Linked DNA regions of Homo sapiens. The protein of the gene in region 1 interacts with the protein of each later gene in a pairwise test. Each region holds a gene or a part of one and is shown on either strand. Other genes may lie near its edges.

Region 1 (7,033 bases):
CCTCACTCAGCTGTTAAAACAACCAAACGAAGCATGTCAGGGCACCCATGGTCAAGGGCTAAGCCAACGCTGGTTATGTTTTAACACATCTTGGGTGTATTCCCAGCTGTGCCAGTCTTGCTGCAGGAAGTAATTTTCACTCGTGGCTGAAAACATAGCATGTTAGCAGGTGGTTTCTACATAAAACCTTTAGGACAGTTTTAGGTGAATGCTTGCTCTTATTGGAAGTTCTGGTTGATTTCAGGATATCAGAGAATCAGTGGGTACATTCTGAGAGGTTGTAGGGGACCTAAGGGCAGTTGACACATTTTGCAATATTTGGGCGAGATTAATGGAATTGACAAGAGGTGGTCTGTGAGTGGAGAGCTCATTGTTCGGGCCAGGGCCAGCTAATTTGCCTCTGAATCCTGCTTTCCATTTGAAGATCTCTGAGTGTTTTCAAAGCACCGCCTGGGAGCAAACTCATTACTGGGGGGAGAACATTTTATCCCAACGTAGCAGATGGTGGAGCTGCAGGTAACCGCCACATTGGAGGTCACAGAGTGGAAAGACAGTTCTGGTTTCCTGACTGCTCTGTAAGTTAAGTTTGGGCCTGAGCAAGGATGAACGACTGAGAAAACAGTGTGCATGGAATGAATCCAACTGCCTGGGGTGTGCGATCCTTAAGGAAGGAGGGAGCTTATTAAAGGGAAGTCAGGGGGTAAATTACAACCCACATCAGGCAGCTATGAAGGGAAGGACAAAGGACGAATATGTGGGAGACAAGTTCAGGTCCCAGCATGACCTCTAACTTGCCAGGTGACCTGAGCAAATGGAGTCCCCTGTACAGGCTTCTGTGACTTAAGCCATAAAGCAAGGGAACTGAAAAAGAAGGTCTCTGTAGCCCCTTCCAGCTCTGGGATTCGGAGATTCTAATATTAGTAAAAAATAAGCCGGGACTTGACACCTAACTTGAGCATTAACCTCTGGCACCAAGAATTGGTATCTTAGGCTGGATATCCCAGAAGCAGCCCCTGAGGCAAGGATTGATGTGCCAGTGATTTATGAATGAGGCATTCTCAGGAAAAACCTGGAAGGCAGCAGGGGAGGCTGGAGGGAAGGGGAGGAAGCCAAGCCAAGTTGTATCCTCAGGCAAAGTCCCTCAGAGGGGAGGGACCCTGGAATATAAGTTATGCCTGGCTCCAGGCAAGGCTGCGGGGCTTGGTACTCCCACCATGTCTGTCACTGGTTAAGGTCCGTTGGGGGTCTAGTTGGGGCAGGCATACTTCTGGCTCTAACAGATTCAGGTGCTGGCTGTTAAAAGCAAAACCACTGCCATCACCGCCACCCCACCACTCCCAGCACACAAGAATTAGTGAAAAGGGATCCAAGGAGATCTGGCTCAGCACAGACATGAACAGCTGCTCTTGGGTTCCCAACAATACAACACAGCAGCAGAGTTGAGGTTCTGCATGGGGGTCTCATGAATGTTTGAAGCTAAATGTCGGAAAAGAACTGTAACAGGCAACTCAGCCATTGGAAATCCTCACGGGGACAAGTTATCCTAGGGGTGAAGAACTCAAACACATTAGAGGGCCCGTTCAGTTACTCCTCCAACTTGCCTTGTTAAAAGATCCTGCCAGATATACTAAGAATGCCAGTAAACAAGACCTTGGCTAAAGGACCATCCCTGACGCAAAAGACAATTTTTCTCCTCTGTCAAGAGATGTCCCATCTTAAGCTCTCTGCTGCCCATTTTAATAACAATAATATAAATATTAAAGAATGGCTGGAAATGCCTGCACTAATGCAGAGTTAATTAACATGTTGCCTAGGAATGTGGCAGGGAGAAGAATTATTTCATGTCACCAAGACACAAGTTAATTAACATTGGGTTCTCCCAGACTGTTTTTTTTTTCCTCTCCTTTTTGAAAATGGAAAGGATTAACAAGCCCAGGCAGCACTGGTTTTATTCCTGAATGTTATATAAAACGGTAGAGATAGGGAGAAGCTGGGGCTCTTCTGACCTTACTCTATCTGCACTTCAGTTAATAAGATTCAAATGATTTGACAGGGATGGAGTCAAGGGTCCGATGGGAATCATTTACCCGTCTGCCCTCTCACTGACTTGGCAAACTGGGAGTGAGCAAAACCAGGTCTGTATTTATCCAAGTTCTATTTTCTGTGACTTAAAAAAAAGAAAACTGACCAAAATTATAAGCATGATCATTGCAAAATCCTACTTATTTTCTCGGAACCACCATATCTGCAAGGACTGCAAGAACTTTATCTGGGAATTCAAGGACAAAAAGCTTCTTCTAACAGTCTTTAGGTAAAGCTTCCTTCACTGTGAAACTGCCTGCAGTTTTTTTGGTTTTGTTTTGTTTCTATAATGTAAAATGCTCTGAGGGCAGGTTTGGGAGGAAAAGCTGGCCCAGCAGCCAAGGGCGCTGAGGTCTCAACAAGCTTCCATGGGTTGGATGGTCCTGGTGTATCAGGGAAGCATGCTTCACAGACCCTCTGCTCCAGGAAAACGGAGAAATACTGACAGCTACACAGTTGAGCAGATCTGACAGTAGAGGGCACAGAGACAGTTACCTCCACAGCAGCTCATCGGAAACTAGAAACACTAGTACATTCTAGGCAAAGGCTTTCACACAGTGCTGGAAAATTCGGATGGCCAATAGGATGGCCCAGAGCATGGGAGATGTCCTCAGCTCCTGTCTTACTTGGTGTTGTCGAGTTCCTATTTTACTCTTCCATTCTTCCATCCCTTTGCTCATTAGATTGGAAAATAATGATTATGTAAGAGCAGCTAACATCTATTTGATCCATACCAAGCCAAGTAGTTTATCTGCATTATTCCATCAAATCCTCCCCACATCCTTAGAGGTAGGTGCTATTATCATCCCCATTTTACAGATAAGGAAATCGAGGCTTAGGAAGGTTAAATAACTTGCCCAAGGCCACCAAGCTGGGAAGCAATGGTATTGGGACTCAAACCTCCAACTGCCTACAGGGCCTTTGCCTTTCTGCTCTTCGAAGACTGCCTTCCTGCTATGAGTCAATGCTTGGAGCTCCATATGCTTTCTATTTTTAAATTTCTCATCATATAATACTGGAGTCATACAAAAAAAATTTATAACATACATATATGTTCTGAAGCATTCAAATGAGGTCCTCAGAGCCCACCTCCAAACTTAGAAACACTCCCAGTCCCTCTGATCCTCCGTGTGTACTCCTCCTCAATCCCATCCCCTAGCTTCTCCCGCTCCCCAAGGGAAGCACTTTTCTGAATTTTGGGTATACAATTCTCTTGCCTTTAAAGATATTAGTATTTTACCACATAGGAACGTAACCCTGAGAACATGCTTCTCAAACAGGAAGAAATGCCCTCTGCTTCTCAGCACAGGAGCTGAGACTCAGCCTCTGCAGTCTGACCTCTTTCTATAGGTGGTGTCCGAGCCTGGAGCAGGGTAAGGGGCAACACACACCGACTGCAGATGTCCATGGACCACCCAGCCTCCCTTCCGAGGGCCCAGTGGAGTGCCGGGGAGGGTACCTGAGATAGTCTCTCCGGCAGAGCTTCCGGCCCAGTTTGTAGTAGAGGCGCCGCCCCACCTCACCCAGCCGGCAGCCACAGAGGTCGCAGCTCAGGCAGTCCTCGTGCCAGTACTGGTCGATGGCCTTCAGGAAGTAGCGGTCCCCAATGTTCTGCTGGCAGCCGCCGCATGTCAGCAGGGATGGGGGGATCTGCAGCACCTCATCCACTGGTTCCCTGGAGAGAAGGCCAAGCATCAGGGACAGCCTCACCAGAGTGAGACCAGCACCGAGGGTCCGAGATCGTTTTGGGCCAGACAGGGCATCTCACCTGACTGCCTTTCAGTGACCTAAGGGAGAAGGGACAGGACAACACATCCCTTGGCCAGACTGCAGAGTCCCAACCAACCTTGGGTTAAGACGGGAAAGAGCCAGACCTTACTCCCTAGATGTCTAAGAAGTAAACACAGGGCACCAAGAGGCATCAAAGGCAATTGCAGGTGGCACTGTGCCCCTGCCCATGCCCAGCACTACCTGGGCACCTCTGGTCTCCTTCTGCTTTTTCCCACTCTCCCCGCTGACTCTATCTTCACAGATCTCCCTCATTTTCCTCCTCCCATAACCTGGACACCCAAGGGCACTGCCTAACCTCAAAGGACGCACTCTGGACTAAAAGAGTCGCTCACTGCCAGGGCAGCAGATGACCCAGAGTGCTAAGAATCTGCAAATCCCCAGTGCCATCCTCCCTCCAGCCCTAACCAACTGCACAAAAGCAGAGGTGAGGAAGAAAGAAGAATGAGACCAAAAATTATTTTAGGTTGCTTTCTCTTTCCAAAATCAAAATTCCATCAGGACATAATAGGAATTCTCCTAATTTTACTTTTTTACAGAAATTCCATTTTCCATTCTTCCTACTGAAGGAATACTTGGAGGAAAATCCCATATCGTAAGGCCATTGTTACACGAAGGACATCAAATAGGCCTTTCTTTCCTTACCTGAACATTTTTATAAGAGTAAAATTGATTTGGATAAAGTTGATTTGAGGAAGAAAATGAAGTGGGGGCAATGATTATTTCAAAGAGAGTGGAAGGCAATTAAACAGACACTGACATCTCAATCCAGCAATTGTTAATAGGCTGTGACACGTGTTCTTTCGTTAATACGCCATGCATAGCATCTCCTGTTCACTTTGCTTCACTGGAATCTGAATACATTTTTACATTTAAAAATAAATAACTTTGCTAAAAGAAAATAAAGGAGTGGAAGGAATTATTCTAGTGTCCCCCACATGGGACACAGCAAACACTTAATACGTGTTGATTTATAATAATTAGCAAGTGTTCTCTGGAACCTTACTTAAACACAAATCTATTTCTTAAAAATCTATTATGTTTCAAAAAACAGACCTTCTTCCATCTGTAAAATTCCCAAAGGGAGTTTCCTCCTGGGTACCCTGCAGGTATAAATCCATGTCTCCTATTTCTAACTGGTACTAACTTACCAGGCGACCTTGTGTCCTAATTGGTCTGTGCCCATAAAGCCCAGCAGCCATTATACTTGGGGACAGGAGGCTAGGTGGCTCAATGTCTATAACACTCTGACAACTTCAGGTGATCCCGTCATGTGAAGTATGAAGTGTTCCTTATGAATATTTAGGAGTGCTAAAGCCATGCCCACACTTTCTAGACACAGTGTAACAGCACTTCATGAGACTATCATCTTTGGAACAAGAAAATGGGAAGCTCAAGTTAGTTTATCTGGGGAAAAAAAATGGCCAGGTACAGTGGCTCACGCTTGTAATCCCAGCACTTTGGGAGGCCAAGGCAGGAGGATCACTTGAGCCCAGGAGTTTGAGGCCAGCCTGGGCAACGTGGCAAAATCCTGTTTCTACAAAACATATAAAAAATTGCCCAGGCTTGGTGGCATGAGCCAGTAGTCCCAGCTACCCAGGAGGCTGAGGTGGGAGGATCATCTGAGCCCAGGAAGTTGAGGCTGCAGTGAGCACTGCACTCTAGACTAGACAACACAGTGAGACCCTAGCTCAAAAAAATTCAAAACTATAGTTTTTTGTTTGTTTGTTTTGAGACACAGTTTCACTCTTATTGCCCAGGCTGGAGTGCAATGGCACAATCTCGGCTCACTGCAACCTCCACCTCCTGGGTTCAAGTGATTCTCCCGCTTCAGCCTCCCGAATAGCTGGGATTACAGGTGTCCACCACCAGGCCCAGCTAATTTTTTTTATTTTAAGTAGAGACGAGGTTTCATTCACTGAAGCCTTGCTTTCTTTCCTTTGTTTCTACAGATTGTATATAAGGACTGCCATTTCCCCTTCTAATAACTAATACCCTAGCTTTTTCATGTGTATCAACTCAGAGTTGCATCTCTTCTCTTTCCACAGCCCATGGTCTTACTCTGGGCTTTCAAAACCACTCATGGAACCTGGACGCACATTGGATGTCCCGATGTTGATGCTGCCAAAGGACTGTGAAAGAAGAGAATTTGCCCTTAGCTGGTGCAAAACTGCCTGGAATTCAAATGAACTGCTCTTGTTACTCACAGGGGAGGCAGTGGGGGCCACCAGTAGCACAGCAAGGGAATCTGTGTTCATGAATTCTGGCTGGCTTTCTGTCCAAATGTTTCATTTGCATATAGCTAGGCAAGTCTCCATCTGTAATTTGGAGATGCTGATTGTAATGACCCAAGCTGGATTTGAGGAAGTACACAATGAAGCATCTAGTAGGATACTGGACAACAGGAGGAATGTAAAGTAAAAGAGTTACGGTGATGGCCTGAGATGAGATGGAGAAGTAAAGTATAAGATATTGGCTCTGTCTTTCTATACTTAATTAATGATAATATCACATTATACTTAGTGGACAATCCAAGACAATGACTGAATTAGATTGATTCACCCTCAAATTAATATTTTATATTCTCCCAGACCCTTATCTTGAATATTACACCTGAGTATCATTTAAGCCTGGATTTCTGGGACAATCATAACAATTTCTAAGGGCATGGGGAGAATGTGCTGCAGCAATTTCTCAACTGGCTTGTCCCTCTTTGATCAGAATCTGTCTTCGTTGGGCAAATAGTGAAGTGAAGGAAGGAGCTGGTGAGCCTCCAGCAGTAGATATCTGTTGTATTAGGAAGTTAGGATGTTTCAGTTTCTAACCTCAGTGAAAAAGCACAAACTTTGAAAGAAGCAAACTTCCTTCAGGGAAATGAAACCTTCAGATTAATCTTCTATTGAAAGGATTAGTGACTAAATTCTGCTGATCAAAAAGGCATGAGGCACCAATTCATCCAATTCACTCCCTTATTGTGTTACTATGATCTTGCCCAGTCTCTGAAACTCAGAGCTCAGTTTTAAGTTTATTTTAAAAAAGTGATCAAACCACCCTTTAAACCCATTGTTTGCATAAACATACTTTTAAAAAGGAATGTTATTTTTCTCCTGAGAATTTGTTGAAGGAAGTGGGGGTTTTTGTTATAACAAACCTAGCTCATTAC
Region 2 (5,182 bases), 1.8 Mb from region 1:
TCAGAGGCAGAGCAGCCCTGCTGACACCTTGACTTCAGACCCTGGCCTCCAGAACCGTGTAAGTTTCTGTCACTGTAAATCCCCCACTTTGTGGCAATTTGGACAGAAGGCATGGAAATGAATACAAATAGTAATGCATGCCAAGAAGAAAATAAAATGGGGATGTGAAACCGAGATTCGAGTTGGGATTACTTTAAATAGTGGGGTCTGGAAAGCCCCCCTGAGGAAGTACCATGTGTTACCCGAGGGCGTGAGAGATGGGTATTCTGAATGTGAGGGGGCAGCAAGTGCAAAGGGCCCAACCTGGGAATGACCTTGGTGTGTCTGAGGACTAGAAAGTCTCTGGGGCCAGACTATAGGCGGTATGAAAGGGACAGTGGTAAGGAGATGATGCTACTGCTGGTAGGGGCCAGATCCCATAGGCCTCCTCCTACAGCGCCTCATAGGCCCAGGGAAGAAGTCCAGATTTTCCAGGTGCAACCTTTTTCAGGAAGATTTTATAGTTAAAATGACCTAGAAAAGTAAAGGCATTAAGTACATACATTTATTAAATTAGTAAATATGAGTCTATTCTGAACATTCTAGTAATTGGATGAAAAAAAACCCCAGAACCTTTATAATGTTATTCATGGGATCCAACCCCACTGTTTTATGCTATATGAATAATGTCACAAATAGCATCTGTGAAGTCAAACACCACAGGACACAGTAGAAAATCCTTAGGGGGATCCTTTATTTCATTCACTTCCTCCTTACAAGGTGAAATTTCAATCTGTACAGGTTGTGTCTGCCAGTTCAGTCCACAGCTCAGAGTATCACCTTGTCCTCATTCCATGGTATAAGCTGTTGCGGGGGGACAGGTCTGCGGGTCGTGGATTCACTGGACTGGATGGGACATGATCCAGAACTCCGCTCCGTTTGGCTTCCCAAGGATCCCACCAACTCATTCTAATCAGTGATCACTGAGGAAATGCATTGTATTCCTATTCACTATTTCAAAGATCAGGCCTACCTCATTGGCATATTAAGAAAGTTTTCTCAAGTATATTTAGTGTTTATCATTTTACTATAGTTCTTCAAATGTCTGACATTCATCTTTTCCCTACCTCTAAATTCCTTTCTTTTTCACATTATCTTTCTTGATTGCTTTTTAATAGAAAAACAAACAAAGACATGGATTTACTGTGCATATTAGCAGATCCATACTGGAAAATGCATGGAGGTTTCATATACACCACTTACAGTAAGTAATAACTCAGAGTATAAAGTCGAAAAGAAAGAATCTGAAATATTAGACTTGTTCTGAAATAAGCTTACCTAGGATGATACCACTTTCGCTTAATCAGAATTTCCCCTTTCCAACTATTTAACAGTGGCAAATATAAAAAATCTGGTAGTTAAAATACACAGCAGTCACTTCATATTACTGCCTCCCTCAACCCACTCACCTTCTGAAGAACAGGGCTTTTTCAAGTTTTGTTCCCCTTTAAGTTTTAATAGAAAAAAAAAAGTTTTAAGTCATGTTGTACCAATATATCCCCAGAAAGAATTGCAATTTACCAAGGTTTTCACGTGTTTTGAGAGAAATCTTACTGAAAGACTAGTGATGTCCATTTTCCAGTAAATACTGAGCGAAAAACAATTTTTATACCCCAATCTGAGGTATAAACTTGCTTTTTGTGGGATCACAACTGCTGTAAATTAGACAATTGTAGCAACAATCCAAGACAATAACAGAATGCCTATGACAGTCTGCCATATTCTGGTGAGTGTCTATCAAAGCTCATCATGATTTTTTGTGAGATCTTCCCCGTAATTGGTAGCTTGGCTTCCGACAAACATGTTCCAGTTCTCCAATATTTCCTCTTTAGTTAGCTTCTCATCCTATAGAAGAGATCAAAGAGCACTGTCATGGAAGCTCTGGTAACTGTACTAGTTCTGTATGATGTTCATGTCATTTCACTGATGTACAACATTTAAAATACTATATTTAGTAATCCAGAAGCTACTGGGCACCTCCTTCATCTACCATGACTGCATTGCAAAACTCCAAATCGGAACAGCCTCTTGCTATAAAAACCGTGCTAACGTGTCAGGGAAGTCCCCGAGTAATTCAGAAGCTAGAATCCATTTGTGCCCACAAGCAGTGTTGGTCTTCCCAAAATAGGCCCTCAAGAATGCCACTTTCCTCTTACAGCCTCGCTGCCTAAACTGACTGTTGGCATAACCTGAGAATTTGGGGGCAATCAGCAAAGTGGGGAATAGGCAGGACATTTTTCTAAATGTATTGATTTGTTTATTTGGATGTTTATCAATAGATACCGAAGTACTAGGCATTAAAGCCAGAAACCTGAGCTTGCCTGAGGATGTCTGGGCTTTAATGGGATGGGCTTCCTTGTTCCTGACACCTCACAGATGTTTGATAAGTATTTGGTGACAATGAATGGATAAATAAGCTGATCCTAGGGCAACACGGGGTATACTTCTTAAATCGTGTCCTGCCCACAAAGTTCTGCAATCTTAGGAAATGTGACTTAATGTAAGTCTGTGGCTCACAGCTGACTTTCCAGGAAAGTTGGGGCCTAATAATTTTACTGTGGGTTATCACGGTATTAGCTCAAGTTTACAGGTCTCCACTGTAGGACAAGAAGGAAAAGTCAATAAAGACATGGCCACATGGGTCAATGCTATCGCCGAAAAAGCAAACAAAACCGATCTTATGTAAACTGTCTCCCTTCAATCAGTGATTCCAGAAGAATGGGAAATACCTTGTTTTTGTCTGATTCATATACCAGATGCCTGGCCTCAGCCTGTGCATGATCATAATCTTGAGGGAGGATCCAGTGGCGAATCTCATCTTTGTCTAACTTCCCGTCCTTGTTCAGATCCCGGAATTCGTTAAACTGCTCCCGTTCTGATAAAACCCAGTCTGGCTCAGGGCCATTCTCCTCATGGGAAAACATATCCGCTAGAAGGGAAGGTTATTGTTGGTTACAAAGGAAAGTGGGAAGGTAAACCTCCCCCACCCCCATAAAACAAACTTGACCTCCTGAGCTTTAGGAAAGGCGACAACCAATCCAGAGACCTAACTCAAACAGCTGGTAGGCAGCTTCTTGGGGATAATGATGCAGTAATTTATTCATGATGAAGGCCATGTGGTGGAGTAGAAAGAACTGAGTTTAGAAGCCAAAAGATAAATCCCGGCTTTTGACTTAGTTCAGTGACTGAGCCTGAAGTTTCCTTGTCTGTAAAATGGAGATGATAATTTATAAATCATGGGGCTATTATGATCAAATGTGCCATTTTGATGTAAAAGCCCTCTACAACCCAAACTGGCACTACATAAGCGAAAACTAATAATAATGACTAACATTGAACACTATGGTCCAGATACTGTATAAAGTGTTCTACACACAGTTTTCATTTGATTTTCACATAACAGCCTTACAAAGTGAGTGCTGTTATAATTCCCATTTTACAGATGAAAACAATGAGGTAAAGTCTTACCCAATGACCCACAGCTCATATGAGCTGGAGGCTGCACAGGAACATGGTCACTCTGCTTTCAACCCAGAGTCTTAGCCACTGTGTTTAGTACTATTGTTTATATCATTTCCAAAGGGCTTTCACTTGTCATTATATTTCATCCTTATAACAATTCTACAAGATGGGTCATTATCCCCATTGTACAAAATGGCAAGGAAAAGAAAAAGGAAACGTTTTTGCATTGTGTGTGTGTCAGTAGCTCTTGGAAAAGAGAGATACCCTGCAGGCAGTTTCTCTGTCACGGAAGCAGAGCTTGGAAATGTCAGGTGGTGAATGAAGCAGGTAGTAAGTGAAGGAAAAAAAAAGACAAGACCCTTGACTACAAGGTAGACCCCTAACTGACATGTCTACATTGTTTTTGAGAAAGAGTTGTAATATGTATTAGCTAATTCGAGCTTCATCGAATCCTGTAAAAATGGGCTCACTTTTTTTCCCCCATTTTACAGATGAGGAAGCTGAGGTTTGAAGCCATTACATGATTACCCCAGGGTCACACAGCTAATTGGTGAAGGTAGGGTTCCTAATTCCAGTGCTCTTCCTACTACCACCCCCCACCACACACTTTCCACTTGGTGCCGCTTGAAGAGAAGCCTCCCCGAGAAGTGAAATGACGAGTCAATACATTGGGTTTCCTCTGCCTGTGAGTCACTAGGTATTCGATTTTCAAGCGCAACGCCTCCACCTCCCTCTCCCTATTCACTGTAAAGAATGGGATGCTTCTTTTAGGCAAAGCCACTCAAAGAGTTCTGCCTCTGACTTTGCACCATTTCAATGCACAGTTCCGGAGGGCTGGGCAGAGCGCACACTTTCAATCAAAAGCACTACATTGTTTGTTTTGATCATGCAGTCTTTGCTGTCAGTCTCATTTCATCCCCAGTGCCACAGTAAGAGGTCTGCGCCTCCGAACGTGACCCTCGCACGTGGACCCAGCAAGAGGAAGGCTCAACTGCTTGCTCTGATGAGGGAGCTGTCAGCATATGTTATTCTATCAGGGTAGTGCCACCAAGATCACTTTAATTACTGTGGCGAGAGCTACCTTGTCTGTTACCAATGACACACAAGGAACAGTGTTTGGCTCATGATCAAACATAATTTCTAATGATTAGAGGAAAGTCTGCTCTTCATTGCTGAAGGCACTTGTTCTCGTGTCTGGGATGGCAAAGTAATACAACCACAAAACCAGAGACAGCAACTCAGGCTCTGAGTTTTACATTTAAAGGTAATTAATGGCTTTGATTAAAAATCTGTACAAAAATTATACATATTTCATTTCTCTTTTCATAGGTCAACACCTAAACCAAATGATTTTCCAGCTTTTACTTTATTGAGACTTGGGAAAAGAGCTGCCATGAGAAGGGAGCCTGCAGCTGGAGCCATGTGCCATAGCAGGTGGTGAGGATCAAATGGAATTGTCCTTGTTGCCTGCTCTAGTCCTTTCTAGCGGGGGGTTGGGCTGGGGGGGATTTGGGGCTACCAGGAAGGGCTCTAACCAGCAATGGTGGGTTCAGACCCAAATACATTAATTTGACACTATAGGACTCCCATCCAAAGGATGGGAAACGAGGGGCACAAAATGAGCATATTATTGGGCAATTGTGCACTCTGTAAAGCATTTATCTTTCTAAGAAGAATGCCT
Region 3 (7,033 bases), on another chromosome or scaffold:
CATGGCCGGGGGCAGTGGCTCACACCTGTAATCCCAGCACTTCGGGAGGCTGAGGCGGGCAGATCACAAAGTCAGGAGATTGAGACCATCCTAGCTAACATGGTGAAACCCCGTCTCTACTAAAAATACAAAAAATTAGCCGGGCGTGGTGGCGGGCGCCTGTAGTCCCAGCTACTCAGGAGGCTGAGACAGGAGAATGGTGTGAACCCAGGAGGTAGAGCTTGCAGTGAGCTGAGATCGCGCCACTGCACTCCAGCCTGGGTGACAGAGTGAGACTCCGTCTCAAAAAAGAAAAAAAAAAAAAAAAAAAAAAAAAAAGAAAGGGAAGAGACACACATTGGTGAGGGTGTGGAGAAAAGTGAACTCTTCTACACTGTTGATGGGAATACAAATTGGCGCAGCCATTATGCAAAATGGTATGGGTGTATTTCAAAAAATTAAAAGCTACCATATGACCCAGTAATTCCTCTTCTCAGTATATATTCAAAGGAAATGAAACCAGCACCTTATAGAGACTACTTGCACTCCCATGTCCATTGCAGCATTATTTACAATAGCCAAGATTTGGAAACAACATAAATGTCTGTCAGTGGATGACTGGATAAAGAAATTGTGAGCTGATCACAGTGGCTCACACCTGTAATCCCAGTACTTTGGGAGGCCGAGGCCTGAGGATCACTTGAGGTCCAGAGTTCGAGACCAGCTTGGGCAACATAGGGAGACCTCATCTCTAGAAAAAATGTATAAATTATCCAGGCATGATGATGATGGCATGCACCTGTGGTCCCAGCTACTCAGGAAGCTGAGGTGGGAGGATTAATTGAGCCCTGGAGGTTGAGGCAGTGCCACTGCACTCCCACCTGGGTGACAGAGCAAGACCCTGTCTTGAAAAAACGTAAGATGTATTTCTCATGTATATCTTGTATATATATATCTCACATATATGTATCACATATATGTATATATAAAAGAATATTATTCAGCTTTAAGAAAGAAGTAGGTCCTGCCATTTGTGATGACATGGATGAAACTGAAGGACATGATGTTAAGTGAAATAAACCAGACATCAAAAGAAAAATACCACATGCTGTCTATGTAGAAATCTTAAAAAAAAAATGTTGAATACATAAAAAGAGAGAATAGAACAGTGGTTACCAAGAGGTGGAGTGGGGGTAGGCCTGGAAGAAGAATGAGGAGATGTAGGTCAAAATGTACAAAATTGCAATTGTGTAGTATGAATAAATGTAGAGATCTAAAGTACAGCATGAGGATGATAGCCAATAAGATTGTATTGTGTACTGGAAAATTTTTAAGAGAGTAGATTTTAGGTGCTCTTACCATACAAAAGTAACTGTCTAAGATGATGGATATTGAAATTGCTTACCTGTGGTAAGCATTCACTATATATATCAAAACATTATATGCATCTTCAATTTACACAATAAAAAGTTAAATCTTGACCCTGAGCTCAAAAATTCATAATATAACTGTTAAGCCATGGAACTGCTGTGTGGTAGGACATCAGGATATATTCAGCTTCTGTTTCTGACAAAAATTCACAGAATTGATGGTCCAGTTTACAAGAGTGAATGAAGGTCACTGTTGACACTGCTGGATCAATAACACATAATAGATTCAAATACTTTCACAGAGTAGCTGCTGTTGAGTAATATGATGAACACTTCCCGGCTTTAAACACTATTTTCTCATGAGCTTTGTAAATTTGTTCAGCTCAGCCTTTTTCTATTCCACATGTATTTTTATCACTGTCAGCTATGACACATCTTAGCAGATTTCACTGCAGGTTGTATTGAATCAGTGTTTCTACACGACTTTGAAAATGCTCTTGTCTGTAATTGTTCCATGAAGACTGTATTAGTCCATTTTCAAGCAGCTGATAAAGACATACCCAACACTGGGAAGAAAAAGAGGTTTAATTGGACTTACAGTTCCACATTGCTGGGGAGGTCTCAGAATCATGGTGGGAGGCGAAAGGCACTTCTTACATGGTGGCAGCAAGAGAAAATGAGGAAGAAGCAAAAGTGGAAACCCCTGATAAACCCATCAGATCTCGTGAGACTTATTCACTATCGTGAGAATAGCACAGGGAAGACCAGCTCCCATGATTCAGTTAACTCCTTCTGGGTCCCTCCCACAACACTTGGGAATTCTGGGAGATACAATTCAAGTTGAGAATTGAATGGGGACATAGCCAAACCATATCAAAGACTATTCATAGAGGTTTGGTTTTTCAGTCACTTCAAACTCAGCATTGACCCTTTCCATAAACAACAACTGAGCAGTGTTGGGAACATCTGTCTGCTTATCAGGAGCCAAGGAAAGCCACTCAGAATCATGTGCCTTGTTATTAGTTGACTACTGATGTTGCTCCCAGTGTCAACTCTGAGCAGCTGCTCTCACCAAAAGGCTAAAATCTTAGACAAGTTTGTTTTTTCCTGGACACATTTTTTTTGGCCACTGAAATAAAACATGTTTTAATTCACTCATCATTGGTAAATATCTTTCCTTGCTTTCATAACAAATGAGCCTCTTGGAACCCTACTTTTGTTGCAGACTTATTTTCATTTTTAATTTTTGTAAATAAATTCTGCTGTGATAATTCTGTTTTTGTTATTTTTATTTTTTTAAGACAGAGTCTCGCTCTGTCACCCAGGCTGGAGTGCAGTGGTGCGATCTCAGCTCACTGCAACCTCTACCTCCCAGATTCAAGCAATTCTCTTGCCTCAGCCTCCCAAGTGGCTGAGACTACAGGCACCTGCTACCACGCGTAATTTTTTTTGGTATTTTTAGTAGAGACAGGGTTTCACCATGTTGGCCAGGCTGGTCTTGAACTCCTGTCCTCAGGCCTTCCAAGTGCTGGTATTACAGGTGTGAGCCACCATGCCCAGCCAATTCTGTTTTACATTTTCTAATTTTTTTTGGCCTTTGTGCTCTGTGAGCTGGGACTATTGTGATGAGTGCTTAGTCTGGTAATGTTGATATTTATTATATTCTTTTGGTACAGTGGCACTGTATAGCAAGAAACATGTTTTGCCATTTAATTTGATGACAAAATAATACACACTCTAGTGTGCCTTAAAAGTGCGACATTCAAAATTCACTATTTTTCTTTTTTTTTTCTCAAAATTTTGTTTAGAGATGGGGGTCTCGCTATGCTGCCCAGGCTGGTCTTGAACTCCTGGCTTCAAGTAATCCTCCTGCCTCGCTCCTGAGTAGCTGGGATTACAGGAATAAGCCACCCATCCCTGGCTTTCTTGTTTTGACATAATGGATATAATTTTTTTAAATGTCACAGTATAGTGATACCATGGCACTCCAAACACTGCTGTTACAATGATGTTACTGCGGTTTGTAGTGTGCTGGGCAGCCAGGCAAAGTGGTGAGTGCACCACATGTGGTCTCTGTTATAACTACTACACTCTGCTATGGCAGCACAAAAGCGCTCGTAGACAATACGTAAACAAATTAGCATGGCTGTGTTTCAATAAAGCTTTAAGGATGCTGAAATTTACATTTCATACCGTTTTCCTATGTCATGAAATATTATTTCTTTTAAATTTTTTCTATTTAAAAATGTAAAAGCCATTCTTTCTTTGTAAGCTATAAAAAACAGGAGGTGGGTTGGCTTTGGCCCACAGGCTTTATTGCTGAACCCTATTCTAGTGTGACAGATATGCTGAGTTGGGAGCAAATATATTGTTGGTTAGTAATGATTTCAGATGATATTCTTTTTTCTTCTTTTCTTTTTTTTTTTTTTTTTTGAGAGGGAGTCTTACTCTGTTGCCTAGGCTGGAATGCAATGGCACAATCTCGGCTCACTGCAACCTCCACCTCCCAGGTTCAAGCGATTCTCCTGCCTCAGCCTCCCGAGTAGCTGAGATTACAGGCATGTGCCACCCTGCCCAGCTAATTTTTGTATTTTTAGTAGAGACAGGGTTTCACCATGTTGGCCAGTCTGGTCTCAAACTCCTGACCTCAGATGATCTGCCTACCTTGGCTTCTCAAAGTGCTGGGATTACAGGCATGAGCCATCAGATGATATTCTGAAGAGTTTCTCACCCACTCTTCCACAACCAGTGTGTGGCTATTTGAAGACCCATCTATGCTTAAAGAAATTTATCTGGAAAATTGTTGCAATCTCATTTGTTACTTTAAGAAGAAAAGGGAAAATAATTTTGTACAAATTGTGCTTTCTATAATTTGCAATTAAGGAAGATTAAAATCTTTTTTAAAAATTTTATGCTTCAGGAAGCATTTGTAGAAACTAAAGTATTAGTTGGATGTGACCATGTATTGTAAGTTTCTGAAATGAAGGTGGGTATAAACTTAATTATCTTGCAATTAATCTAACTGTAATATGACATATTTCTGAATATTCAGCAACAGCTGGCATTGCAGCTAGAGTTGGAAATGCAAGAAAAGGAGAGGCAGAGAATACAAGAACTACAGAGAGCTCAAGAACAATTAGGCAAGGTAATTTGAAGTTTTATAAATGTCAGTTTTATTTAAAACTCTCTAGAATCTTCAAACTGTTTATTTCAGCTGTTAGCAGAAGGACCATGGGATTTGTAGTCTGAAGACATGCCACATACTAGCTGTGTAAGCTAAACAAGTCTCATAACCTTTTTCAGTCTCAGTTTACCTGTTTCAAAACTAGAGCTAGCAGTATAATACTATTAGCAATGTCTCACTGGTTCCTTTTTTTTTTTTTTTTTTTGAGACGGAGTCTCATTCTTGTTGCCCAGGCTGAAGTGCAATGGCACAATCTCGGTTCACTGCAACCTCGGCCTCCCAGGTTCAAGTGATTCTCCTGCCTCAGCCTCCCGAGTAGCTGGAATTACAGGCACGCACCACCACGCCCGGCTGATTTTGTATTTTTGGTAGAGACAGGGTTTCTCCATGTTGGTCAGGTTGGTCTCGAACTCCTGACCTCAGGTGATCCACCCACCTTGGCCTCCCAAAGTGCTGGGATTACAGGCATGAGCCAGCGCCCCTGGCCGTCTCACTGGATTCTTATACAATCAAATACAATCATGTTTGTGAAACTTCTCTGTGAGCAGTAGGGTTCTCTAATAGTGATACCCTCAACATTTTAGTCAGGAGTTAGCTGTTCCTAGTTACAGTAGCTGATGTTGAATATTGAGGGTATTCCAATCTCGGAGGCAGTAGTATATGTCTTTATGTTAATGTATTAACAACAAGAATTTACATTTTAAAATATGTTCATACATGGACTTTCATTAAAATAAACTATGCAGTAACTTTTTTCTTTCTTTCTTTTTTTTTTTTTTTTTTTTTTGAGACAGAGTCTCACTCTGTCACCCAGGCTGGAGTGCAGTGGCGTGATCTCGGCTCACTGCAACCTCCACCTCCCGGGTTCAAGCAATTCTCGAGCCTCAGCCTCCCGAGTAGCTGGGATTACAGGCACGCACAACCATGCTTGGCTAATTTTTTGTATTTTTAGTAGAGATGGGGTTTTGCCATGTTGTCCAAGCTGACATGATACAATCATGTCAGGTCTCTAGTTTGACCCATATTTCCTGCATCCAAAAGCTATGAGTCATATAGACCAATATTCTAGATGACTGAGTTTATAGCTACTATCTCTTAATCAAATGTTTCTCCCCCTTTTTATTCCATAATTAAAGCTGAAAAAAGAAGCAGGTTTTATAGACAATGTTCATTATGTTTATTGATGCTTAGATGAGAGAATCATTTATTAAAGCAATATTTAAAAAGTGTGAATGGTGAATTAAATCAAAAAGTGAGATTTTTTTTAAAAGGATAAAAGCCCTATACATAGTTTTAAAAAATACAGATGCTGATGCGGTCTTAGTCTGAGTGTAGTGTGAGCACAGGGATATGCCTGTATGCACACATACACAAGCAGCCCCTTTCTCTTTAAGATTCACAAAGAAATAATGTTTAAGGTGATGGATATCTCAAATATCCTGATTTGATCATTACATATTGTATGCTTGTATCAAAATATCACATGTACATCGTAAATATGTACAGCTATTTATATCAGTAAAAATTAAAAATTAAAGAAATTTTGAAAAAGATTCACGGATCTAAACTGAAAGAGAAAATACAGGAACATATCAAGAAGGCAGTGATCAAAATAAAGGAATTTAAAGTATTTTTAATCAAAGTGACCTGATAGCTACATTAAAGTGCTTCAAAGTCCATAGGAAGGATTGGTCTCTATTTTATGGCTCCAGAGAGCCACACTCATGTTATTTTACTATCTCCAGACATCATCAGCTTGTGTGACCACTGCCAGAATAACTTTAGTAATTCCTATTTCTATAGGCTTATCATCCCTCACCATAGCATAGGTAGTCCCCTGCAAAGTACCACTCCCTCGCCCATTGCTCAGAGATGAGTCCACTCATGTGCTTTCCCTTGGCCTTCTTATGGCTGCAGACTCGCAATGTAAACTATCATGTGCAAAGGGAAGTTTGCTAGAAGGATTCTGGGTTGAAGGAAGGGTTTAACACATAAACTGTGAAGGACTCTGGTATCACTGGGCCTTTCAGACTTTGGGAGCAAGAGAATCAGATGCTACCAGGGCTCTCCCCTCTGCTGCTCCCTGGTTATTAGTTTCGCTCTTTCACTATGGGCTGCTTTGCTGCACATGGGTAGGGAACATGGGCCTTAACGGCTTCTGAGGCTTAGAATGTTGTGGCTTCTACCATCTAAGAGGAATGGATGCCTTGTTTTAGTTTCAGTTAAGAAAAGAATCTTGGAGAAGGATTCTGACTGGCTTAGTTTGTGTCAAATATCCATCTCTGTGGCAGGGGAGCATAGTCCTATAAGAATATGGATGTTCCCCATATAGCCTTGTGGATGCTGGATAAGAAGTTACCAGGAAAATGGAGTGGTCTTGGGAAAACAGTGCTGTTTATGTCCCTATCATTAGGGTGACCATATGTATGATCAAGAAATCACTGGTCTTCTAGCAGCCAAAACGAATCAGCTCAGGGTCAGTTAGGCCACCCTGCTGCTT

The links. Proteins that work in one complex are often made in the same cells at the same time.
Region 2: the proteins of LMO2 (region 1) and RCN1 interact in binary tests that used the Homo sapiens proteins (3 or more experiments, as listed by UniProt).
Region 3: the proteins of LMO2 (region 1) and DYDC1 interact in binary tests that used the Homo sapiens proteins (3 or more experiments, as listed by UniProt).

The regions. Positions count from the first base shown.
Region 1 is NC_000011.10:33,861,061-33,868,093, forward strand, and holds part of LMO2 (rhombotin-2), read right to left. Parts: intron 3,758-7,033; coding exon 3,542-3,757; intron 1-3,541. UniProt on the Homo sapiens protein: Acts with TAL1/SCL to regulate red blood cell development. Also acts with LDB1 to maintain erythroid precursors in an immature state.
Region 2 is NC_000011.10:32,101,067-32,106,248, reverse strand, and holds the end of RCN1 (reticulocalbin-1 precursor), read right to left. Parts: intron 2,969-5,182; coding exon 2,769-2,968; intron 1,885-2,768; coding exon 1,777-1,884; 3' UTR 527-1,776; downstream 1-526. UniProt on the Homo sapiens protein: May regulate calcium-dependent activities in the endoplasmic reticulum lumen or post-ER compartment.
Region 3 is NC_000010.11:80,339,730-80,346,762, reverse strand, and holds part of DYDC1 (DPY30 domain-containing protein 1), read left to right. Parts: intron 1-1,947; coding exon of another isoform or gene 1,948-1,980; exon of another isoform or gene 1,981-2,018; intron 2,019-4,401; coding exon 4,402-4,494; intron 4,495-7,033. Other genes in the region: DYDC2 (DPY30 domain-containing protein 2), read right to left, coding at 1,948-1,980. UniProt on the Homo sapiens protein: Functions as part of axonemal radial spoke complexes that play an important part in the motility of sperm and cilia. Plays a crucial role during acrosome biogenesis.